4 linked regions of the Homo sapiens genome follow. The protein of the gene in region 2 purifies or fractionates together with the protein of the main gene of each other region. This does not show direct contact. Each region holds a gene or a part of one and is shown on either strand. Other genes may lie near its edges.

Region 1 (7,000 bases), on a different chromosome or scaffold from region 2:
TGAGATCTCACTATGTTGCTCAGTCTGGTCTCAAACTCCTGGTCTCAAGCAATCCTCCTTCTTTGGCCTCCCAAAGTGCTGGGATTACAGGTGTGAGCCACTGTGCCAGCCAAATATAAGATGTTAACAGAGGAAACTGAGTGAGCCATATATAGGAATTCTATGTAATATCTTTGCAACTTTTCTATAAATCTACAACTATTCAAAAATCTAAAATTTTATTTTTTTTAATGATCTGAGGCCTGCCAATAGCCATGGGAGTGAGCTTTTAAGCAGATCCTACCCTAGTTGACCCTTGAGATAACTGAAGCTCCAGCTGACATTTTAATTATACCCTTATAAGAGACCCTAGGCTGGGCATGGTGGCTCACGCCTGTAATCCCAGCACTTTGGGAGGCCAAAGTGGGTGGATCACATGAAGTCAGGGGTTCAAGACCAGGTGGGCCAACATTGGGAAAACCCGTCTCTACTAAAAATACAAAAATTAGCCAGGCTTCGTGGAGCATACCTGTAATCCCAGCTACTCAGGAGGCTGAGGCTGGAGAACAGCTTGAACCCATGAGGCAGAGGTTGCAGTGAGCTGAGCACACCACTGCACTCCAGCCTGAGGGACAGAGTGAGATTCCATCTCAAAAAAGAAGAAAAAGAGATCCTGGGCTAGAAGCATCCAGCTAAGCTGCCCCAAGATTTCTGATCCACAGAAATTATGAAATAATAAAAGTTTGTTGTTTTAAGCTGTTAAGTTTTGGAGCAATTTGTTACACAGCAATAATAACTAATAGAGTATACTTCCTTTTATGTAGAATATTCAGAAGTATCCCCCACAAAAACACTGGGATAATTTGCATTCCATTTGTTTGATAGTTATATTCTTCACTGTAAATAATAAATTCTCATTCTAGTTTTTACAACAGATTCCACAGCAAATTTACTTAGCCTGAGGCCATCCCAAAAAACTTATTTTGAAGTATAAAAGCAAAATATATGTCAATGAATGCCAAATCTACATTCCTATCCAGATTAATTTCCTACTAGACACATTCACTCGGACAGTACATGGCATCTCAAAATCAACACACCCGATATTCCTGTATTTCCTATGTCAGTTAAAATTCTCAGCATCCAACCCTAAGCCAAAAATAATTCATCCTTGACTTCTTTTCACTCACCCATGCACAGCCTTTCTACTCAAGCACTAAACCCTGCTGATAAATAGCTCCTAATTTTCTTTTTTTTTTTTGAGATAGAGCTGGGACCACAGGTGTGCGCCACCATGCCTCGCTCTGTTGCCAGGCTGGAGTGCAGTGGCACGATCTGGGCTCACTGCAACCTCTGCCTCCTGGGTTCAAGCGATTCTCCTGCCTCAGCCTCTCAAGTAGCTGGGACTACAGGTGCGCGCCACCATGCCCAGCTAATTTTTGTATTTTTTGTAGAGATGAGGTTTCACCATGTTGGCCAGGATGGTCTCGATCTCTTGACCTCATGATCTGCCCACCTTGGCCTCCCAAAGTGCTGAGATTACAGGTGTGAGCCACTGTGCCCAGCCAAATATTTCTTAAAGAGAGCCTCCTGTATCTATCCCTAATACCATTGCTCTAGTTTAAGTATTCATCATCTCTACTGGTCCTTCTCCTAGTCTTCTCTCTTCTTACCCTCCCAATATCTACCCTCCACACTTTATTTATTTATTTATTTATTTATTTATTTAGAGACAGGGTGTCACTCGCCCAGACTGGAGTGCAGTGGCACAATCTCAGCTCACCACAACCTCTGCCTCACAGGCTCAAACGATTCTCCTGCCTCAGCCTCCCAAGTAGCTGAGATTACAGGCATGTGCCACTATTGCCCGGCTAATTTTTGTATTTTTAGTACAGACAGGGTCTCACCATGTTGGCCAGGCTGGTCTTGAACTCCTGACCTCAAATGATCCACATGCCTTGGCCTCCCAAAGTGCTGGGATTACAGGCGTGAGCCATCATGCCCAGCCAACTCTCCACACTTTAATCAGAACTATCTAATTAAAACACTACATCTGGGCTAGGTGCAGTTGCTCACACCTGTAATCCCAGAACTTTGGGAGGCCGAGACAGGCAGATCACGAGGTCAGGAGTTCAAGACCAGCCTGGCCAACATGGTGAAACCCTGTTTCTACTGAAAATACAAAAAGTAGCCAGGTGCGGTGGCAGGCACCTGTAATCCCAGCGACTCGGGAGGCTGAGGCAGGAGAATTGCTTGAACCCGGGAGGCGGAAGTTGCAGTGAGCTGAGACTGTGCCACTGCACTCCAGACTGGGTGACAAAACAAGACTCCGTCTCAGGGAAAACAACAAAACAAAACAAAAACCCACTACATTGGCCGGGAATGGCGGCTCATGCCTGTAATCCCAGCACTTTGTGTGGCCAAGAGAGGTGGATCACTTGAGGTGAGGAGTTTGAGACCAGCCTGGCCAACATGGTGAAACCCCGTGTCTACCTAAAAATACAAAAATTAGCCAGGCGTGGTGGTGTATGCCTGTAGTCCCAGCTACTCAGGAGGCTAAGGCAGGAGAATCACCTGAACCTGGGAGGCAAAGATTGCAATGAGCTGAGATCACGCCACTGCCCTCAAGCCTGGGAAACACAGTGAGACTGCATCTCAAAAACAATACAAAAAAACCCAAAAAGCACTACATTGATCATCAATCTTAAAAGCCAAGCTCCATAGGGTAGCACACAAACTTCTCCAAGATCTGGTTCCTACCTACTTCCTTATTTTACAATGTTTCACCTGCTTAGAGTTTCCACTTCTGCCGTTATTTTGTACATCCATGCCTTGGATCTTACTGCGTCCTCAACTGTAAATGCTTTTCCTATTTTTCATTGCCCCACTAAATTTTACTTATCCTCCAACACTTAACTCATGAGTTGTCTCCTTCAGAAAGCTTTCTCTGAAGCCCTAGACTGTGTGAATGGCCAGATTCTGTGCTCCCCAAACACTCTGTGCTTACCCTATTTTGTCACTTGCTACAGTTTAATGTAATTTATCTATGTAATGGAATGTATCTGTATGCTCTTGAAAGTCAGGGACAGGTTCACTTTATGTACGTGCATTTTTTTTTTAGCTCATCCAACATTATAGAATGTACTTGATTTTTCTGTTTTGTTTTGTTTTTGTTTTTTGAGATGGAGTCTTACTCTGTTGCCGAGGTTGGAGCACAGTGGCGCAATTTCGGCTCATTGCAACCTCCGCCTCCTGAGTAGCTGGGATTACAGGCATGCAGTATCATGCCCGGTTAATTATTTTTGTATTTTTAGTAGAGACGTGGTCTCACCATGTTGCCCAGGCTGATCTTGAACTCCTGATCTCAAGTGATCCGCCAGCTTCGGCCTACTAGAGTGCTGGGATTACAGGCATGAGCCACTGTGCCAAGCTGTACTTGTATTTTTTATGGATGGATGGAAACATATACTGACCTACTAGGAATTCAGTAATGCTCTCAAATCAATTTCCATTTATTAATAACAGCTGCATCTGCCTATATTGGAAAATCAGCAGCACATTACATCGGAAATATTATTTATTCTGCCCACAGAATAGTTCATATGAGTTACAGATTTCACTGGAATAATGTCCTGGCTCCCAATGTAGCTCTTAGGATACTGTACTTACTTTAAAAATTCTATTAAATTCACTGCTATTAAATGAGTTTAGCAGGAATGAACCAGATTCATTAACAATGCTAGGACAAACACAAATAAATAAAACAGCATGGAACTAGAATTAACATTATTTCAATTACTAATCTCCACCCCCTATATAATAACCTAACAAACCATTTTAGAGATTAAGAAACTGAGGTGGCCATGCACAGTGGCTCACGCCTGTAATCTCAGCACTTTGGGAGGCCGAGGCCAGTGGATCATGAGACCAGGAGATTGAGACCATCCTGGCCAACATGGTGAAACCCCATCTCTACCAAAAACACAAAAATTAGCTGGGTGTGGTGGCACATGCCTGTAATTCCAGCTACTCGGGAGGCTGAGGCAAGAGAATTGCTTGAACCAGGGAGTCAAGGGTTGCAGTGAGCTGAGATCGCGCCACTGCACTCCAGTCTGGCGACAGAGCGAGACTCCACTACAAAACAACAACAACAACAATAAAAAAAAAACTGGGGTTCAGAAAAGTTAACTGGTTCAGAATCAATTCACTGGTAGCTGGTGTCAGAACTGGGACTCCCTGATTATGAAGTCAAGTCTAAGTTTTGCCATTTACTTTTTTGGTAAACTTTGAAACACTACTTTATCTACTGGCTTTTTCATTTCTTGGTCCATGAAACAGTAACTTTGCAAGACTGCAGTGAAAATGAATGACTTAAAGTGTCCCTGCCCCCAGTGTGACCATCGTTATTTTTTGCAGACTTAAAAACATAGGTATATGAATAATGAGATCTATATTTTTATCTACCACCAAGAAGCTTAAAATCTGGGTGGGGCTGGGCGCTGTGGCTCACGCCTGTAATCCCAGCATTTTGGAAGGCTGAGGCAGGTGGATCATGAGGTCAGGAGTTCAAGACCAGCCTGATCAACATGGTGAAACCCCGTCTCTACTAAAAATACAAAAATTAGCTGGGCGTGGTCATGCATGCCTGTAATCCCACTCAGGAGGCTGAGGCAGGAGAATCGCTTGAACCCAGGAGCCAGAGGTTGCAGGGAACAGAGATCATGCCACTGCACTCCAGCCTGGGCGACAAAGCAAGACTCCACCTCAAAAAAAAAAAAAAAAAAAAAAATCACGTTGGGGGAAATGGTCTATTACTGTATTATCAATGCTGTATTTTCAAAGTTATTAATGTGCTTATGACACACTAAAAGCAGTACAATAATTTCATTTAAATTATTTAAGTAGCTATCTTTTTAAGCTGCTTTCCCTAGCCTTCACAGCAATTCACTGGAACAAAAAGAATGTTCAATTATTTTAATTATTTTCAAAAATTAGAGAAAGAATATGTTTAGGTGCTTTCTTCCTTTTGAGTTTTCATTTGTTTACTTAGTATAATTATTAAGATTGAACAGGCCTTTTGGTTGCCAGATTCACAAAGAACACTTAGGTGACTTAGAGAAACAAAAAAGTATCAAGAATATAAACTGTGTAATTCAGTCTTGTCTTGAGAAACAATGTTGAACCATAATAAAGGAGATTAGTGCTTTCTAAAGACAAGATACATAGGATATAAACCAAAGAATAAGCATTTCACAGTCTTACACAAATTTAGTGTTTAAAAGGCATTAACTACCTTAATTAGATGAAATTTAGTGGATTTTGTTACATTTTTTAGATTATTTGCTTTTTACATAGGCAAAAGATTATGATAATCCAGTTTTTATGGTACTTCACAATGCCACTGGGGATATGTGAACAAATATCTTAACCAATTTTTCGTTAATGTGCCTTCCCTCCCCCCGAAGAGTGTAATCTCTTTCAATTTCTTTTTTTCTCTCAGGCTCTGCACGGAATTTTCCTCTCCTCTTCATCCTGATGGTGTAATACATGATCACGTGTTTGTTGTCTTGTTTTCCTCTGGGTCACATGGGTACTTCTATTTCCTTCTCCTTTTTCATCTTTTCTCTCATTATGGTCTCTAACAAGATCCTCTCCAGGGTCCCTCTGATCTCTATGCTAATAGGAAAGCACTGGAATGATGAAAAGGAAGACAAAGAGAAAAAAAAGTCCCAAAAGCAGCTGGCAGTCCTTGGTTTTAACCATCTCTATGGAAACAATTCCACACAGATAGGTCTGGAAACAATTCTGTAGGGATCACTGGAGCAGTGGTGAGCCAGTCTCACCAAGCCTTATTTACAGGATTCAACTTGCAAATGAGAATCGTTGACAAGACTTTTTTTTTTTTTAAGAAAGGTAGTAAAATAGGAAGCCAAATAAAATGTACATTTATGACTATGTAGCGGTTTTGTTTGTTTGTTTGTTTGTTTTGAGACGGAGTCTCGTTCTGTCACCCAGGCTGGAGTGCAGTGGCACGATCTCGGCTCACTGCAACCTCTGCCCCACCAGGTTCAAGCAATTCTTGTGCCTCAGCCTCCCAAGTGACTGAGATTACAGGCATGTGCCACCACGCCCAGCTAATTTTTATAGTTTTAGCAGAGACAGAGTTTCCCTATGTTGGCCAGGTTGGTCTCAAACTCCTGACCTCACGTGATCCACCTGCCTCGGCCTCCCAAAACGCTGGGATTACAGGCGTGAGCCACCATACCCAGCCTATATAGTGTATTTTTTAACTCAAAACTTCCTACTGTAATAATAAAAAGGCAAAAGGAATGTGTAAACCAATTTCAAGTCCTTCCTGAGTATGCACACTGGCAGAGTGCCTGACCCAAAGAAATTATGGCAAGCAAGCAAGCAAGCAAGCAGCAGTTTGGTAGTGAAAAGTCAGTCATGTCATTAGAATGATTTTAAGATTGTGGCCCATAACCACACAAAATATGCGGAAGGAATGCCAAATTCAATTAGGCAGTAAAACAAATTGTTTGAATTCAAGCAAGGAGTGAAGGAGATTACAGAATTCCATCTGCCAAATCGGTTGAAAGACTGAAAGGATAGAAGTAGCCATGTAACTTGAACCCAGGAGGACCAAGGGAAGAACTCCATCAGAATTGTGGGAGCTTAGAGTCTTATTAATACAGCAATTTTTTTTTTAAAAGGAGGGAGAGGGGTTGGGACTCACAGTGTCTTGGGACTCACAGTGTCAGTGATAATGGGACTATAAAGTTTCAGGCCTGTTCAAAAAGTCTCCAGCCAATAAGCTAGTAACCACAGGTCTCCTGAAATGGTAACTCCAGTGTTAATTAGGCAACATAACCTCAATTTTCCAAAAATGATGTCTGTTTCCTTAAGTTATAGATAAGTTATTTGTAACCTCACGAAGGTTCATAGTGTTTTAAGACCCTGGCCCTTGGGTAAAACCCTATGGGCTCCAATTCTAGCTCTACCACTCAACTGTGTGACCTTG
Region 2 (5,440 bases):
AGGAGCAGCTGACACCCCGGGGCTTCCTGAGGGAGGGGTACTCTAATCTCGGCTCTAGGGCAGTTCCCAGGACTAGGACCCTCCAAGCAGCTGAGTCAGAGCCAGGGTCTGGGACCTTCCAGGGCTTGGGCAGCTGGGAGTCATGTGCCACTGTCTCAGTGCAGGACAGCAGGGTGAGCGGGGAGGAATTGCCAGGGAAAATCTGAGGGCCACAGGCGAGTACACACTGGGCCAGGCAGGGAGTTTCTGGTGAATCCGTGCCCCATGATGAGCCCGTGCTGCTGACTCGCGCTGACCATCCGGGCCTGCTCATCGGTCACTCACGGCCATGGGCCCAGCTCTACCTCTGAAAGTCAGGCTCCCCATCACAGAACTGGGGCGCTGCTTGCCTTCTGCTCCTCTGCTATGGGGACTCCTTCGGGACATGGTGTGCAGGACTCTCCCGCCTGGGCATTAGATGTCTGGGGAAGCATGCTGAGAAAAGGACATTTGAAGGGGTCTTGAAGGACATACAGGAGTTTAATGCTGGCTCCAGGCCACGTGAGGATCCAAGCTGAGGGAGTGGGGTGAGGCCCAGCTGGGTCTAGAGGGCCATACGGTGGGGGTGGATGCCTGGAGGCTCAAGGTCATCATGGGGGCCTGTGTGCAGGGCAGAGCAGCAGGGCCGAGGGGATTGACACAGCAACTCTGTCCCATGTGACAACTAAGGGTGGGCTGGGACCTCCCGCTCTCCATGTGCGGACCCTGGTGACTCACCCAGGGCTGCCACCAGGGCAACCAGCCCCGGCTGGAAAATGGGCACAACCTGGACCCTACGGTGCCTGAGGCCTATGTGTCCTATAAACCATGGAGCTGCGCCTCAAAGAAACACCTCCCGGTGTCCACCCATCAGACACCATGCAGGCCTTTGCTGTGGCCAGGAGGGGCAGGGCAGGCTTGGGGGAACTGAGATCTCAGGGGTGTGCGTCACCCAGTTCATGACACCCCAGGGACAGCCTGACCCCAAAGCTCCTGGCATTAGGGTCACCCACTTCCATGTTGAACCTGACTGGGGGCCCCTCCTCTGTGCCCCAGGTGAGTAACAAGGTTAGAAGGGAAGCTGGGTCCTGGAAGGAGAGGACAAGCCCTCGGAGCAGGGCTGAGCAACTCTCAGGGACACAGGCCTCCCGGACCACATTAGCCACAGCCCCCGGTGACCCACAGTGTGACACTTCGCAGGGACCAGGCGGCCTGGAGTGGACCCTTCCTTCAGGGGCGCATACAAGTAACCCAGGCAGCCACACTGAATTCCAGCCCAGGACTGTGGAAGAAGGCCCAGCACTCCTGGACCACCCCAACCCCAGGAAGGAGTGGCCTTTTCTGCAGCCAGATGGGGGTGGCCACACATTTGCCCCTTTGTCCTGGAGACTGGAGCGCCTATCATGCCAAACCAGGACAGGGAGGAGCAGGGACCAGGGGCAGAGCGCAGGTAGGGCTGGCCTAGACAGCAGCTGGGGGTGGCCTTGGCTGCTAGGGATCACTCAGAACAGAGGGGGACGGTACGTTTATTGCTCATCACTCACACTTGGGGCCAGGCCCCTGCTAGCATAGCACTCAAGGCCCCCAGCACAGGGGAAACAGAGGCTCCCAACAGCCACTGGCTGCCTGGGCAGAAACCCAGGCCCCCTAGGCACCAGCGGCAGCTCCAAGGGCCCCATGGCTGACACAGGCACTGCTCCTTCCTTGAGGCTGTCAGACACCAGGGCGGGCGAGGAGAGCCCCCAGCCTGGGCGTCCTGCCCTCTGTCCCCACTTTGGGAAATGCCCCTAAGCTTAGCCTTTAAGAGGTGATCACATAGGCACTGTCCCTGGGTGGTGTCCTGAATGCACCTCCCCTACCCCACACCGTTGTCACTGTGGAGGGACCTCCTCCATGCCCTTGGCTTCTGTGAGGGGTAGGGGTACCCACATAGTTCCGGGACTCACAGGCTGGCATTCACACCCCAGCCCCGACACACTTGCCTGGTTGCCTGCGGCAGACAACCCACTCTGCCGCTCCTCTCCGCAGCGCTGCCTGGCCTCAGCGAGTGCAGCCCATGTCAGGGGCTCTGGCTGGGTGGGGGATGCCCCGCCTCTTGGACATGAGTGGACGAAGGCCTGGGCTGAGCTCAGTGCTGTGACATCAGCCAGGAGGCCAGAGAGCAGGGTCACCTCCCTGGTTCCTGGGCTGGCCTGGTCTCCTAGCGCTGGGGAGAGCAGGGCAGGGATTCTGGGTCAGCTCACCCCAGCTTCTGGCCAAGGCTGGAGCCTCGGCCCGGGGACTGGAGAAGCACGAGATGGTCTCAGGCCCCGTGGGGCAGCCAGGGCCGTGGGGGCCCAGGGGTCAGACGCAGCGTGGTCTCAGGGTCAATGCCCCCCTCCCTCCTCCACCCCCTTCCTGCTTAGGCCCACCTGGGAGGGGGTCAGACTCCCCCACCTGCACCCTTTGGCTTCAACACCCAGGGGAGCCTGTGGCAGTGGATACTTCATATTGGCAACAAACAGCAGCTGGGATGGGCCACAGGGCTGGACAGGAATGGCTGAGGCCCAGCCCCAGCACTGCTCCTCCATCACAGCCGCCCTTCCTGCTGTCCCACTCTGGCCACCCAGGAGGCCCCCAAGCCCCACCCCACCGTCTGTGTCTGGCAGGCATCGCTGACCATATAAGGTGCCTCTGGCCTCCCTGCCCAGCCCTTCAGTGCTCCCAGCTCCCTGGTGCCCTGGGAGGCGGCCCCCTAGCCTGGGGTCTTGGTGGCGAAGGTCAGGTAGCCGGTGTGGCCCACGGCCTCCTTCATGGGCGTGCCGCTGCGGAAGGGGCTGGTGTCGGAGCCGGCAGGGCCATCTGTGCCTGTGCCCAGGTCGGGCGGTGGCAGGCTGACAGTGCGCACGTTGTAGACCTGTGGCAGCACCTCCAGGGTGCTCAGCTCTGAGAAGCCGCGCGCTGCCAGCGCCTGGCATGTGCGTTGCACCTGCTCGATGCACGGTGAGAAGGAGCAGAAGCGCCCGCCTGTGGGAAACAGGACCCGAGGGTCAGAGGGCAGGGGTGGCAGAGCCTGGCCCGTCTGGCCCTAGCATCCCTGGACTCCCACCCTAGGGTCTGAGGCCAGCCTAAGACAGCCCCAACACAGACTGCAAGCTCTCCAAGAGCTGGGACTGCAGGGCAGAGGGGCCTGGCCCTCAACTGACAGCCCCCCATGGGGCCTGGCGCCGCTGTTCATGTCACCCAGCTTAGCCATGCCAGGCCCTCCCATGTGCCAGGCACCGGGTCAAGCCCGCGCTGCCATTGTCTCACTTGGCCCACAGCGGGCACTGCTCTCCTGCCTTCCACAGGGCTGCTGGAGCTCTGGGCCCGGAGCAGCTCTGACAGCACGGCAGCGTGGGGCGGTGCGGGGGCCGCTGCTGTCACAGGAAATTAGAGGCTGTCGCTGCTCCCGGGAACAGGAGGCGCCTACTCGAAGCAGAGCCCGAGCATGACAGCCCCTCCCTGCCGCCTCCCACCAGGGCAGCCACGGGCTTCACTTGGCCTGGCCTGCAGTGAATGAGAACCCAGCCCGGGTCCCTGTCCTGGCAGGGAGGACCTGGGGAAGCCAGGGCCGGGTAGAGGTATGTGGCCCAGGCAAGTGTCCTCAAACGTCCCTGAGGTTTGGTCTCCTCAGCTGTACCCTAACACGGGGCCGCCAGGAGGTTCGGGGTTAGAGGAGGCACCTGCTGTGTGACAACAGCCTAGACAGGGCACAGAGGCTGAGCATGCCGCATCCTCCCCAGCGGGCTCCCGTGGCCGGCAGGAGATGCCGGGCCCATGAATGAGCCAGGAGCCTTTGGACCCAGAAGGGGGAGCTCGCAGGGAAAGGGACAGGTCCCAGAGGCAGGCGCGGGTTCCCCGAGCCACGCTGGAGGAAGGAGTCACAAAGGCAGCAGGGGGGCCCCAGGGGAGGCTCTGCCGGGTTCAGCCTCCCTGGGACTATGGTCCAGGCCCAGAAGTGTCCCCAGAGCAGGAAGCCTAGGAGGCAGGGTGTGGAGATCCCCACAGCTACCCACCTCAGCAGAGACCAGGACCCAGGAGTCAGGGCTGGGCTGGAGCCAGCAGGGGACCCCCGGCCACAGCCTTGCTGTTCGCACCAGGCCTCGGCTCATCTTTGAGGTGGGGTGGGGCGCCCAGCACCTCCACCCTTCAACCCTCTCAGAATACAACTCTCAGCTGGGAAGAAGGAAGGGGCCCCTGCTGCCTGAGCTGCTCCTTCTCCAGAAAAGGGAAAAACCCTGGGCCTCCCAGCCACCTCCCTGGCTTGAGGCCCGACCTTCCCCAGGGCTGCCCCGCCTCCGCACCCAGCATCTTCCCTAAAAGGGGCCAGCTCCCTGGGCTCCAGAGCCTGGGGGAGGAGAGGTTTTGGGAAACAGCAGGGAGGGGACTCCAGACTCCTCCGGCCGGGCCTGCCCTGCACTTGGGTGGCGCTGCCACCTTCCTCCATCAGGGGGTTGGGAGAGGCCAGAGACCAGGAGCAGGGCCCAGCCAGGGACCATCCTCCCCAGCTCTGCCTCCCCTGGCCAGCCTGACCCACTCCTCACCTCAGGCCAAAGTGGGGCCCTGGCCTGGCCACTGCCATGGTGTGGCTTGGTCTCTGGACCCCTCTGAGATCCCAGGAGCTCAGTCCTGCACCCTTGCCCCACCCCCACCCAGGCTGTACCTCTCCCGGAACCCCGGATGCACCTTCGACCTTGAGGGCGTCCCAGGCGTGGCCCACGGCCTCCCAGGGTGATGGGATGTCCAGGAAGACGGCGTCGGCCACGTGGCTCACGCCAAAGCCACTGCGGCACACGTCCTGGGTGCGCACAGTCACCCAGCGGCCCACACGGTGCTCCTGGAACTCCTCCCGGGCCTTCTCTGCCCGCTGCTGGTGGAACTCCACCGTGTGCAGGTGACCCGTGGGTGCAATGGTGCGGATGATGGCGTGGGACACAGAGCCACTGCCGGTGCCTGGCAGGACAAGAAGGGATGGGCAAGGCATCAGTTGGGACTGCTCGGGACCCACAGCCTCCCAGGAAACAACCCCCACCTCACCCTGGAGACCCACACAGGGCTTGGGAGGACCCCAAGCTACAGGTGGGCGTCATTCCAGGGCTGTATGGTCCTGGCTGCCTAAAGCCCCAGGCTAGCCCTGGGTTGGGCACCCTGTCTAGGGGTGAGCTGGGGTTGACAGGCTGTGTATGCCGTGCTGTCTGTTGTGGGCACAGGCGAGGCCAGTGGCAACCCTGCCCTATCCTGCCTAGCGCAGGTATAGGGAATGAGAGCAGCCCAGCTGCCTGGAGCCTCCGGGGAAATCTGTGCAAGGGGGACAGGGAGGCCATCCCATCACTCAGCCCTGTCTTATTCCATGCATGGCCCATCACTTCCTCAATCCCCGTCAACAGTGGCCCACCCTGCC
Region 3 (7,062 bases), on a different chromosome or scaffold from region 2:
AGGTCACCCAGACAATGATAGAGTTATTGGGACAATGTTATTCCAACCATCAGAAATTATTAAGACTGTTAATTCAGGAGAAGGTATAAAAAATATTGTAGGTTTTAAATAACCAATTCTCTGCTCTCATCACTAGCTTAATGTCTGTCATGTTTCTTTAGGCAACAGGTTCCACTTAGGTCTCTCATCCTCTGTCCTTCTGCTCTACAATCACTTCCTGAGAGATGCCAGGAAGTCTCATGGCTCTGATGCTCACATCTCTATCTCTTCCTAACCTCTCTCTAAAGTTTCACTCCTAAAACTCTAACTTCCTGCTAGTTACTCACTTTTTAGTGTTTTGTCATTCATTATCTTAATCTTGACATGCTTTAAAACTGAGCCTATAATTCTACCAAATCAAAAGAAAGAAAAAAGAAAGTACAATGGAAGGAGGTGGGGGAAGCAGTGGTAGTCCTTTTCTGACTCTTATTTCTGACTAGATTAATGAAATTATCTCTAAATATTCCCTTTCCTTTGACCTCACATTCAAAGAAGTCAATTATTTTAAGCATTTGATGACTTCTCAGTTTCTTCTTATTCCTTCTGATAACATTCTAGTCCAAACTCTTTTAGTCTCAGGCCAGACTATTATAATAGCTTATTTAGTAAGTACACCATTCCATACCTCTTTCCATTCAAATCCTTCCACCGCTTTCAGCCAGATTAATCTTTTTTCATACCTTTAGTCATACGCTGGTTTAAAAATTTCAAGTGGTTCTCCCCAGCCAAAGAAATTGTTCTCAGCCTTTTTCCCACCTCAATACAACTGAGAGATATGCTATCCTCCCATTTTAACAGTGATTCTGAACCAGGCAGGGGGGTGGGGAGCTAACAGAGTGGCATGTGTGTGTGTGCCTGTGGCATGGGCCACTGTAGAGAATACTATAATCTCCACAATAGAACTAGAAGAATAAGTGGAGTTTGATAAATCCACATACTTTAGGGATGGCACATGAGTGTCATACTTAGTAAGTATCTGTAATAAGTTATGAATAAAACTTACAATTTCTTAGTGCATCCAATGCCCACCGTTCTTCTGAGACAGGCAGGTGTGAATCTGGGATTGCGATTTGATAATCTTCTCCAACTTCCTTTAGTGTCCCATCTGTATGTTGTTCCTTTGCAAACTGTCTCTCAGCCACAAACAGATCACGTACCTCTGATTTCCCAGAGGTACTCAGTGAATGAGACTGAGGTTTTGACGATATTAAGGTAGATTCTAATCCCAAATCTCTGTCTGTCCAATGGAATAGAAAAGGTAGACTATATCTAAACAAAGCTTTTAACTTTTAACATGAAGCATTCAGGGAAGAATCAGAAAAAAAAAAAACAATCCATAAACTACAGAGATCATCTGTTAAGAAAAATACACATCACTTAGAACAGTGTTATACTGACACACAGAAGGCTCAAAGGCAAAGTTTGTTAAACTGAATCTCTGATGCTGGAACCTGCATAAACCAAACAGTATTAAAGTTTCTTTGCATTTTATTTTATTTTCTTTTTTTTCTTTTTTTCTTTTTTTTTTTTGGTGTTTCGGTCTTGTTGCCCAGGCTGGAGTGCAATGGCACGATCTCGGCTCACCGTAACCTCCGCCTCCTGGGTTCAAGCAATTCTCCCTGCCTCAGCCTCCCAAGTAGCTGGGATTACAGGCACCTACCACCATGCCCGGCTAATTTTTGTATTTTTTAGTAGAGACAGGGTTTTGTCATGTTGGTCAGGTTGGCCTCTAACTCCTGGCCTCAGGTGATACGCCTATCTCGACCTCCCAAAGCACTGGGATTACAGGCATGAGCCACCACATCCGGCCAGCATTTTAACAGATAATAGAGCACATTCTCCATTGAACTCTTCAGAAGAGTGTACCTGGACTCTGCAAACCAGTGACTGAAATGCCATGCTGCTCCTCTTTTAATTTTGAAGGATCTTCTTCATCATTATCTCCTCTGTAGAGAAAAAAAAAAAAAAAAAAACTTTTACCTTCCTGAGGTATCTAAACATCATCGCAACAAAACATAATAATTATCCTAGTCTTTTCCAACCCAAAACATAAAATAAGTCCTACTACAATGCAAAGGAACACTCACTCGCCAGGTGTTGACTGTGGTAATGGAATTGGCTTTGTGGATTGCTCCTTCACTGATGCAGCCATCCGACAGATTAGGTCCTGCCAGCTTCAGAAAGTTGGAAAGAAATCCAAAATACAAAAAAGAAAAAAGAAATATCCTTTAAATATACTCAGAAAGCAAAACTAAACAAAAACCAAATCAACCAACAACAACAACAACAACAACAACAACAACAACAACAAAACCCACTCTGCCAGAGAATATCTTTATTTTGGCAACACACTATTAAGGCGAGAGTCCAAAACTATACCTTAAGAGAAATCTATGGACACATTAAAAAAACTTCACTTGACATTTTGCACAATTTTTTCTTTAGGAAATAAACTTTCAGAATAGAATCAAAATAAAAGGCATCAACCTAAAAAAGAACAAGTTCATAGTAGAACGTCTCTAAAAGAGTACAGAGGAAGTGCTTGGTTTCCATACATTATAAAAACAAAGTTAAGTTTATGGAATATTACGCTTGGGATAATGAAAATATTAGCTATAGCAAGGTAGCCATATCTGATACATACACAGTCTTTTCAGAAACTGTCTGTGCCACCAGTTCATAAATCTGAGCGCCATTGTCTGACATGGAAATGACGAATAAAGCTTTGTTATCTGGAAAAAACAATACAAGATTACTCTAATACTATGACCTGGGGAGGCCATGAGGGATGTTTTTAGGGTCTTGAAATAGTCTGCCCCTTAAACTAGATAAAGGTTACATATATTTACTTTAAAATTCATCAAGATGTACACTTAAAATTTGTGCAACTTACCATATTAACGTATTTATTGTACTATATTTATTGTACTTCAATAAAACAAAGATTATACGAATTAGCACTAATTCCACAATAATTTACTAGAAACTTTGCTAAAAGCATGTCAAAAATCCAAATTACTGGCCGGGCACGGTGGCTCACACCTGTAATCCCAGTACTTTAGGAGGCCGAGGCAGGTGGACCGCTTGGAGCTCAGGAGTTCGAGACCAGCCTGGGCAGCATGGCGAAACCCTGCCTCTACATAAAACAAAAAAATTAGCCAGGTCATGGTGGTGCATGCCTGTAGTCCCAGCTACTCAGGAGGCTGAGGTTGAAGAATTGCTTGAGCCTGGGATGTGGAGGTTGCAGTGTGCCAAGGTTGTACCACTGCACTCCAGCCTGGGTGACAGGGTGGGACCCTCGTCTCAAAAGAAAAAAAATAAATAAATCCAAATTACCAGATTAAATGCTATTACTCTTTTGCATTTATTTTGAACTGCACTTTTGCTAAGTTGTTAGTTAATAATATTCAGTGAGTAGTGGAGAAAAGAGGTCACAAATTTATTTTGCCACCATGAAACTAACAAGTTTTAAAAGGGACCCCGTTGTTAATAGAGTTAAAATATAACTTGCCAGTCAAATTTGATTTTTAATCAACACTACATCCGTCTCTTTGGTTTTTGATTTTTTTCTCACCAAATCAAAAAACATACCACCCTAAATGAAAGGCTTTTCATTGGGATCTATCAATGATTTGAACATAAAGAACCAAAGTAATAGCATAAAAATTTTCAAATGCAGAAAACTGTTCACAGAATCGAGACACCCTAATAACTTTGGGGTATAAACTCTTAGGTCTCTTTCTAAGCAGTAAATTTCATGTAATTTGCTTAAGAATATAAAAATAGCAAGACTCTATGCCACTTGTGTTATTGAGACAGCACCGAGTATCTTATGCAACTTCACAATGAATCTGGAAATTAGTATCCTTCAGTGGACATACTTGCCTGTTGCCACTTGTCGAACCAACACTGTACTCAACTTAATGACAGGGCTAAACGTGTGTTTGCTATCAGCTGTAGATGCCAGAATCTTACTATGACACCTTAAAACCAGTCTATCATCCTGCTTTTGTAACAATACAAGAATGTCTTCCAGCAGCAACGTGTATAAATCTAGAAATAAAAGTGCAGAAAAAAATGGTAAGTACAGAAATGGAGACGCGTTTGATTAACTTTATAATGATTCAACAGAGGAATTCTATTTCTGTTAAAGCTACAAAATTTTAAAAATTGACTTGTATATTATCTTTTAAAATTTCATTTTCAGTAATTCATTTTTATTTTATTTCACTGAAGTGTCAGTCTGTGACCAATAGGAAATAAAAAACAACAAGCTGGGTGTGGTGCTGTGCGCCTATAGTCCCGGCTACTAGGGAGGCTAAGGCAGGAGGATCCCTTAAGCCCAGGAGTTCGAGGCAGCAGTGCACCATGACTGCATCTGTGACTAGCCACTGTGCTCCAGCCTGGGCAACATAGAAAGACCTTGTTTCTGAAAAAACAAAAACGGTTCCTCATCACAGACAGTTTAAGATGTACTGGTCTAAAGAAAGCTTACAAAGCATACAAAGACTCACTAGACTATAAGAATGATGGAAATAGGACTAAATCAGTTCTCCACTACATTCCTAAATGAATATTTAACACATCTTACATATAATGAAATAACACAAGCAGATCTACAAATGTACAAATAACACGAGGTAGCACTGCAAACTGCTGAGAGAATGGTTCTCTCCTCTTCCCTTTGTCATAGGAAACTTTCCTATTCCTTCCCTTTTGCCACTCTCCCCAAAACTAAAAGACAATATCAGACCTACCAATAGTTTTATCTCTATTCACCTTCCAAACCAATGGCCCTTCATGAATCATCTTCCTTTTTGTTAAATCCAAATTCTGGCAAAATAAAGAAAATCATGCACAAATAATTTCCAAGCACTCAGTAACATGATTATCTATATAATACAGTCTCTTTTAAAGAAATTCTTAATATAAAATACACCATTTACATTCAACTATCATTATTGCTATTTGTCAGTTCTTGAAAATGGCACAAAAGCCATATTAAAGTAATCTGCATACAATTTTCTAAAAAGGAAAAGGTATCTTGCAGAAGAACATTCAGGAGTACTATCTTCAAACCTCACTCTAAACAGATGATAACAGATTATGAAGATCAAGTTACAAACATTCAGTCACTAGATTCTCAACGTATCCTTTAATTTTCCTATGAATAACTGGATGAGCATGGTACATATGCTTGTCTATAAGAAAGTGGCTTCTGAGTTCCAAGGCTCTAATTTCAAAGAAAGTTCTAAGAAATAGTACTCATGAAAAGTCCAGGTACTACTCAGACTTGGTCTAAATATTAACAACTTATTAGTAAGAGAATCATCTTTTAGTATTAGCAGCTCTAGAAAACTCTCATTCTTTGGAAGCTAAGGGGAATAAGCACATTTACGTGCTTGTTGACGAAGTATTAATATATGACATAAAAGTCTATTTTAACAGCCACCAAATAAATCTGCCAAAACCACCACCTAGTGAAATGGTACAAAAACACTTAAAATCCGAAAAAGTTAACACATAAGCCCACATACTAGAAGTGGCAATTAGTAAACATTTTACTATCGTTCCTGTAATGGTTCCAACTTTTATGCTTCTGAAGAGCCTCATGAGAAAATAGTATGCTATCTTGTGTTATTAAATGATCTGGAAAGTTACCAAACAGTCCTACCCTTATTTAAACTACAGAACACAGGCTGGGCATAGTGGCTCATGCCTGTAATCCCTGCACTGTGGGAGGCTGAGAAAGGAGCACTTGAGCCCAGGAAATCTGGACCAACCTGACAACACAGCGAGACCTTGTCTTTACAAAACACAGAATTAGCTGGGTATGGTGGCATATACCTATAGTCCTAGCTGCTAGGGAGGCTGAGGTGGGTGGACTGCCTGAGTCCAGGAGGCCAAGGCTTCAGTGAGCCAAGACTGCACCACTGCATTCCAGCCTGGGCAACAGAGCAAGACCCTGTCTGAAACAAACTACAGAACACAATAAAATTAAATTTTATAATAATTAGTGTCCCTTAGTCTCCTGCCAATTGCTGTCATGTAATATTACAGTTTTATGCAAGATATTCCTCTAATGAAAAACTAATTTCATACAGATCAAGCATTTAAAAGGCAGCAAAAAAAATCATAAATACAGATAATCTACGATACAAGAACTCCTTCAGGTGACGTATATTCCCACTGAGATGTTAATTACCTGCCAGGTCTTTAGCAAATTTTATTTTATTTTTTAAATTATGATTAGACCATCTCTCACCCTGAGCTCTTCAACATTTGGGTACTCTGACAACTTCAGGCTGGAGGTATCAAGGCGACGCTGATAATCTTCTAGGCGCTGAAAATTAGGCAGGGTGGAACCAAGGTTAGTGCTTTGGTCATTAATGACCTCTCTATTTCTGAATCAAACTTGGCATTTAAAATCTCCATTTTGGCCAGGCGTGGTGGCTCACACCTGTAATCTCAGCACTTTGGGAGGCTGAGGCAGGTGGATCACGAGGTTAGGAGATCAAGACCATCCTGGCTAACACAGTGAAACCCCGTCTCTACTAAAAATAAAAAAAAATTAGCCGGGCATGGTGGCGGGCGCCTGTGGTCCCAGCTACTTGGGAGGCTGAGGCAGGGGAATGGTGCAAACCTGGGAGGCGGAGCTTGCAGTGAGCCGAGATCACGCCACTGCACTCCAGCCTGGGCGACACAGCAAGACTCCATCTCAAAAAAAAAAAATCTCCATTTTACTGAGCTCTTTGCAATGCTAGACAGGACTGAAAACTCACTCTCTTCCCGTGGCTTTGGTGATAATATACTCTCCTAGTTTTCCTCCTGCCTCTTTGGCTTTTCTTTCTCAATCTTCTTTTCAAAGTCATTGGTCTCTTATTAGCTTATATTTATTTTCTGAATATGTAAATCATGCACACAGTACAAAATTCAGATGGCTATATAAGGCAAAAAATAAAAAGTCTCCCTCTAACCTTGTCCTATTGCCCCACCCCCCTCAATTTTCCCTAAAGAAGCAAT
Region 4 (7,000 bases), on a different chromosome or scaffold from region 2:
TGGGTGGCTATGTGGGAATATATATATATACAGGAATATATATATATAGGAATATATATACAGGAATATATATATAGGAATATATATATGGAATATATATATGTATATATTTAGGAATATATATAGGAATATATATAGGAATATATATAGGAATATATATATATGAATCTATATATAGGAATATATATATATGAATCTATATATAGGAATATATATATATGAATCTATATATAGGAATATATATATATGAATCTATATATAGGAATATATATATGAATCTATATATAGGAATATATATATGAATCTATATAGGAATATATATATGAATCTATATGAATATATATATGAAAATACATATATGAATATATATGAATATATATATGAAAATATATATATGAATATATGAATACATATATGAATATATATATGAATACATATATGAATACATATATGAATATATATACATATATATATATGGCTGATTAATCAGGATCCATCAAATACATGCTAATCTCCTCAAACCATGACCCAACTTCCTAAGGGATCTCCCAGAACTGACTACTCACTTTTTTTTGTTTGTTTTTTGTTTGTTTTTTTGAGGCAGAGTCTTGCTCTGTCACCCAGGCTGGAGTGCAGGGGTGCGATCTCAGCTCCCTGCAACCTCTGTCTCCCGGGTTCAAGTGATTCTCCTGCTTCAGCCTCCCAAGTAGCTGGGACTACAGGCGTGCACCAACACATCAGGCTAATTTTTGTATCTTTAGTAGAGACGGGGTTTCACCATGTTGGCCAGGCTGGTCTCAAACGCCTCACCTCAGGTAATCCACCCACCTCGGCCTCCCAAAGTGCTGGGATTACAGGCGTGAGCCACCACGCCCAGCCTCCTGCTTCTCTTAAAAAGCTGTATTGAAGAGCTCTAAAACTATTTGGTAGAAATGGCCTAACCTAAGGGTCTAAGGAAGGTTAAGTATCCACTGTATTCAGTAAATTGCTAGGTATCAATGGCAGACAAAATGACTTCTACTGAAGATCCTAGTCTATCAATAGCACTACCCTTCTCCTAGTCCACCAGTCTCATAAATTTGGGAATAAAATTTGATTCAGGGCAGTGCACGGTGGCTTACACCTGTAATCCCAGCACTGTGGGAGGTGGAGGCGGGCGGATCACCTGAGATCAGGAGTTTGAGACTAGCCAGGCCAACATGGTGAAACCCCGTCTCTACTAAAAAATATAAAAACTTAGCCAGGCATGGGATCAGGCACCTGTAATCCCAGCTACTCAGGAGGCTGAGGCATGAGAATTGCTTGAACCTGGGAGGCAGGGGTTGCAGTGAGCCAAGATCGTGCCATGGCACTGTAGCCTGCGTAACAAGAGCAAAACTCTGTCTCAAAATAAATAAATAAATAAATAAATTTGATTCAGTCTTAAAATACTGGTTAATTCTGCTACCAAAACGTCTTGGGAATCCTGCCACTCCTCTTTGTCCCCACCATAACCGTTCTGATTCAGAAGCTCGTTATCTTTTCCTAAGATTGCTACAAAAACTCCTAGGCTTCCTAACCCCAAGCTCTCTTCTGCTCTATATATTAATATCAGAATTCTCTCTTTAAACACTATGTTTATCACCATATAATACATAAACCTTCCCCGGCTCCCTTTCTACTACCACATAAAGTCTGAATCCCTTCATTCTCCCTACCCTACCCATCTTATCAATCTAATTTCTCTCTGCTCTACAATAATCTTAACACTTGGAGACCACACCATGTTGGTGCCACCCCAGACAGAACCTTGCTCGTGTTGCTCCTCTAGTCTGAAATGGCCTCTTCTCTTTCTTCGACCTGAATAATTCCTAACTACTCTGCCTTTGACTATTCTTATTAGCACCAACCTTGCACTCTTCTCTAAATGTACCTTTTGGTGTACATAACGATTCAGCAATTATGTACCATCTTTTTATTTTGTGTTGCTTTGTTAATAACATTTCCCAACAAGCATTTAGGCTTGAGGCCATGCACGGTGGCTCATGCCTGTAATCCCAGCACTTTGGGAGGCTGAAGTGGGCGGTTTACTTGAGGTCAGGAGTTCGAGACCAGTCTGGCCAACATGGTGAAACCCCCGTCTCTACTAAAAATACAAAAAGTATACCGGGTGTGGTGGCAGGTGTCTGTAATCCCAACTACTTGGGAGGCTGAGGCAGAGAATCGCTTGAACCCAGGAGGTGGAGGTTGCAGTGAGCCGAGATCACGCCACTGCACTCCAGCCTGGGTGACAGAGCAAGACTGTCTCAAAAAAAAAAAAAAAAAAAAAAAAAAGAATGTAAGCTCTATGTTCTCCTGTACTATCTCTCAGAACACTGAGAACTGCACTGAGCCATCTGATAAATATTTCAAGTCCAACCAACCGTCAAGCGCCACAGATCACAGGTCATCACCAGGAGGGCTGCTAGATTGGTTCCCTACATGATTTGAGGCCAGGCTGTGACTGATGACTACAGATCCCATCACACCACTTTGTAGTGGCTGCTCCCAAATACTGGAAAGGAGCAGGGTCTGGAAAGCAAGACTCTGAAATTACTTCACTCTAACTTTTCAAAGCCCCTTTCTCACATATTCATGTCTTAGTTTGCTATTCTTTAAAATGAGGAGGAAAATCTTAAGGAAGTCAACAATGGTAATAGAGGGATACTAGTGACTTTAAGGCCTACGCTGAAATCACAATAGAAAGACAATAAAATGGTTTTAAATTGTGGCAGAGGAAGTTTCGTATCCAAAGGGATTTCTAATTGTTGAACTAATGGAACCATCCTCCAGAGATCACTGAAAATGGGAGAGGCCTTCAACCTGTCTTTACTAGGTTAAGAGACACCCTATTTGGAGTCCAGAGTAAAGGGCAAGAGGATCCCTTGAAGTCCTGCCAGATTTTTGTGATTTTTTCCTGAAATCTGTCCAATTGTTTTAGTACAATAAATTGGGGTATTCTTCCAGACCTTAAGAACACCTTCCAGGCCTGGCGTGGTGGCTTGCACCCATAATCCTGGGACTTTGGGAGGCCGAGGTGGGCAGATTGCTTGAGTTCAGGAGTTTGAGACCACTCTGGGCAACATGGTGAACCTCATATCTACAAAAATTAGCCAGGTGTGGTGGCACATGCCTGTAATGCCAGCTACTCAGGAGGCTGAAGTGGGAGGACCACCTGAGCCTGGGGAGGTCAAGGCTGCAGTGAGCCATGATCATGCCACTGCACTCCAGCCTGGGCGACAGAGTGAGACCCTGTCCCAAAAAACAAAAAACAAAACCACCTTCCAAATCCTATTCCAATTCTATTAGGGGCCATGGATTTCTCAGTTCCTCCCCATGTTTCCATGTCCCTGTACTTCCATCTTCTCTCCCATTTGATCAGGCAGCTTTGTTCTCTGTTCTTTTCAAGCTTTCATTTTCACTGATTTTCAGGAAAGCCAGACAATGATTTCTGAAAAACCATTTGGCCCACTGAAAGGACACAAAGCATTCTGGTTTCAGAGGCTGAAAGAACGTAATAGCTAAAAGGAATCAAATCTTAGAGGCTGGCTAGCCTAATTCCCTCATTTTTCCAAATAAGCAAACTGAGGTCGAGGGCAGGTAAGCACCTTTGCAAGGTCATTCACCCAGCTGCTAACAAAGCTGGCTCCATCATCCACGTCTACTAACTCAGATGTTGTGTTCTTTCCTCAGAACTCCAAACCTCCTTTCACAAAAGATCTAACATGACTTTTTATGAAGTTATACTTTTTTCTTTTTGAGACCAGGATCAGCAACTTCTTCAGTACGGTTTACCCCATGGGGCAAAGGAGTGATCTTGCATGCCACTAGCAGGTGTATGCTTGGGTCTTTTATCAATATAGTGATTGACAAAAGAAGGAACACCACAATCCACAGCAAAAAGAGTTTCCAAGCCACGTGATATATCTTTGAGTTAAGCTTAAAAAATAATAAACCAATAAAAATGAATTTTTAAAGGCAATGCTACTATGAAGAGGTGAAACAGATTCAGTCAATATAGATTAAAATAACTCCTCTTACGTTTATAGAACTCAACAGTTAACAAAGCCTTTTCACAAACATCAGATTATCAGAACATTAAAGCAGCAAGAAACACTATACAAACTAGAGTTTCTAAACTCCATTCCACAGAGGCTGTGAGCTTCCAGAACTCCTTTACCTTTATACTAACTAGGAGATTAGCTATGTGCTGTTCACAAAATCTTTTTATTTTTGATGAACTCGTATTGTCATTTAATTTTTCTTATTTCTTGTCTATTAAAAAAGCTAAACAAATACATTAATAAAAGGGCACTCTTTCAGAAATGTTTTTGAGTATCTGAAGTTAAGCTTAGTCTGCTCCTTCTCATAATGGTGATTAATTGCCAAATGTTTCAGCTGCAAATCCATTGTGTCTCTCATCTCACACCCCTAGATGGGAACAAGGGTACATTTTGGAAAAGACTCAGCATTTCCGGGACTTATCATACGTAGCTCTGGATCCCTGTCTCCATTCTGGGAGGCCAACCTTCTAATCTAGGTAGAAACTCAGCTAAATGTCTGGGGACTTCTTGGTCCCAGGAGTCAATAAAGACCAGAAGCCAAGGTGCGAAGAGACCCCTGACAGAGAACAGTTGCTGGGTCTAGATTTATTTTGAATTAGGAAAGTCATACGCTTTTAAGACAAGGAATGGCTGGAGATCACAGAACAAATCCTTTCTATCCCCATCACTAACAGACATTTAAGGTGAGCCAAGGTAGATGAAGTCTCTCTCATTCATCAGAGTTCCTGGGAAGGAGATTCAGTAACCCTTCTCTTCTCACATTCTTCTAGTACCCTATCTATTGGAAAAATACTCCTTCCTCCTGACCCCATGCACTTCTACAACAATAAAGCCAGTTCACTCTGCTTAAATTCTTCAAAATGATATAAAGATTTCAGTCACCTTGTTTTGTTTTGGGATACTTAGCTCAGAAAGTTGTGCACGAAGCTAAATCAAATCTGTGAATTTACCATCTATAATTTATATAGAGTTTACAGTTTAGAAAACAATTTGAAATACATTATCTCGTTTGATTTGCTCCTTTCAATAGGCTTGTGAGAGAGATGAAACAAACATTATAATCCTCAAATGACACACCATATAAAAATGTTTGAGAACTGGATTGTACTTTATAGAAATGAACTACTACTGCTTTACATGAGGAAGCCAGAGGAGGCATGTGACTTCCCCAAGGTCACATAGTTAAGGGGAAAGCCAGGACTCAAACCACAAACTCTTGGCTTAAAGTACTTTGGTTTGATCCTCACATGAACTAACTTTGGGCAGAGGAAAGATGTTTCATGGATGCAAACCCCTAACCCTCCTGTCCATCTCAAAAACATTTGCCATGGGGGAACCAGGCTAACAGATATAGATGGCTTAGCAAAACTCATGACCACTCCTGTAAAAATAATTTAGTATCATTATCTCTGTTTGCAATAGCAAACACATTTTTAGAAACTCTTGAAAGGAATATATATTAATGGGCAGTAAGTTGCCCATGGACAAAAACTGAAAGGGACATGAACAGCTACACTTTAGCCCATCTTTCAGTAACAACTGATTAACACTGAAAGATAAAGAATAGTTGCAAATACTTTATGCTTTCTATGGACCCAGGAGTCACTCTTGAACAGGGTGCTACAGGAGATGAAAGACTGCCAAGTAAATATTCCAAAATTTTCTTACTCTCAGCTACAATCTCTTTCCAAATACATAGTCCTTTATTATGTCATTTATTTTCTAGAAAATACACATTACCTAGGAAACCTTCTCTAATTGACCTTATTTGACTACATTTGAAATTAACACGTGAATGTTGAAACAACCCGCAATGAAATAATTTGTACTTGCTGATCTGTTCATTCACTCTAACATTCATTTGTCAAACATTTCTTGAGTACTCACCTCATGCAAGACACTAAGCTAGGCACACAGGATTTCATACAGGCAAACCAAACTGTCCCTGCTTGTGAGGGGCTTACAGTCTGGTGTTGCTTTATGTGGTCTTCAAGAGTCTTACGTGTTTCCCAGTCCCCCAGTTGCATGCTCTCTCTGTGAGCAAGTACTGTACACCTTAATTTTCTAAAACTCTCCTATAGCACCTTACACTAGGCTCTCTACACAGCAAACTGATAAACTGAAAGAATACTAGACTCCATAATCCGCAGCGTATTATTCCTTTCAGTGTGATTTAAATCTGTAAATTATTTAAAATCCATAGAGTCTTGAGGCTGATGTTGCCCAAAGTTACAATTGAATAAGCCTACAGTTAAGGGAGTAAGATTCAGTGCAGCTAGCTGGGGATGTCTGAAGGGGATCTGAGTCCTACCACTCTTAATGGGGAAGAGAATCAGGCAGGGTGGAGGTGAGGAATACCCTTACCCTGCAAAGCTGCACTATCTTACAAGAGAAAATAGTGCTTTAACTATAGGACTTACAGGTATGAGCCCCAAGACTGAACCCCCAAGGTAGGAGCCCCAAGACAGAAAAGTAGAAGGGAAGACCTTGACTGCTGACGGGCACTTTACCCTACTACCAAAGAGAAAGGAGAAAACGGTGCCCCACACATTCTACAGGACCAGTACAGAAGCCTAGTTAGACATGATGGGGCAATGAAAGAGCTACAGATTCAGACTCAGAAGACCTGTGTTTGAGTCTTTGAGTCCAGATTCTGCCACTAGCCAGGCAAGATGGCACTGGGCAAGCCAGGTAGCCTCTCTGAGCCTCAGTTTCCCCTTCTGTGAAACATGAATAATAACCTCTGATGCTTCTGTCTACCTCACACAGAACCACTGTGAGATTCAAATGAGATATGTTCTACGAAAGCACTTAGGAAACTGTAATGTGCTGGGCAAATCCTGAGATTTTTATCTATGAGGATATCCAAACCCCCAGGAGTGTCTCACATCAACCCAGGAAGGCTCACCGCCTCCTCC

The links.
Region 1: the proteins of TRMT61A (region 2) and PBLD purify together in Homo sapiens (affinity purification with mass spectrometry; 3 studies listed by BioGRID and IntAct, with this or other methods). This does not show direct contact.
Region 3: the proteins of TRMT61A (region 2) and ARHGEF12 purify together in Homo sapiens (affinity purification with mass spectrometry; 3 studies listed by BioGRID and IntAct, with this or other methods). This does not show direct contact.
Region 4: the proteins of TRMT61A (region 2) and ARHGEF11 purify together in Homo sapiens (affinity purification with mass spectrometry; 3 studies listed by BioGRID and IntAct, with this or other methods). This does not show direct contact.

The regions. Positions count from the first base shown.
Region 1 is NC_000010.11:68,322,929-68,329,928, forward strand, and holds part of PBLD (phenazine biosynthesis-like domain-containing protein), read right to left. Parts: intron 1-7,000.
Region 2 is NC_000014.9:103,532,134-103,537,573, reverse strand, and holds the end of TRMT61A (tRNA (adenine(58)-N(1))-methyltransferase catalytic subunit TRMT61A), read right to left. Parts: intron 4,993-5,440; coding exon 4,726-4,992; intron 3,025-4,725; coding exon 2,753-3,024; 3' UTR 501-2,752; downstream 1-500. UniProt on the Homo sapiens protein: Catalytic subunit of tRNA (adenine-N(1)-)-methyltransferase, which catalyzes the formation of N(1)-methyladenine at position 58 (m1A58) in initiator methionyl-tRNA.
Region 3 is NC_000011.10:120,472,370-120,479,431, reverse strand, and holds part of ARHGEF12 (rho guanine nucleotide exchange factor 12), read right to left. Parts: intron 6,383-7,062; coding exon 6,305-6,382; intron 4,873-6,304; coding exon 4,797-4,872; intron 4,093-4,796; coding exon 3,925-4,092; intron 2,772-3,924; coding exon 2,684-2,771; intron 2,214-2,683; coding exon 2,127-2,213; intron 1,986-2,126; coding exon 1,906-1,985; intron 1,277-1,905; coding exon 1,043-1,276; intron 1-1,042. UniProt on the Homo sapiens protein: May play a role in the regulation of RhoA GTPase by guanine nucleotide-binding alpha-12 (GNA12) and alpha-13 (GNA13). Acts as guanine nucleotide exchange factor (GEF) for RhoA GTPase and may act as GTPase-activating protein (GAP) for GNA12 and GNA13.
Region 4 is NC_000001.11:157,035,743-157,042,742, forward strand, and holds part of ARHGEF11 (rho guanine nucleotide exchange factor 11), read right to left. Parts: intron 1-7,000. UniProt on the Homo sapiens protein: May play a role in the regulation of RhoA GTPase by guanine nucleotide-binding alpha-12 (GNA12) and alpha-13 (GNA13). Acts as guanine nucleotide exchange factor (GEF) for RhoA GTPase and may act as GTPase-activating protein (GAP) for GNA12 and GNA13.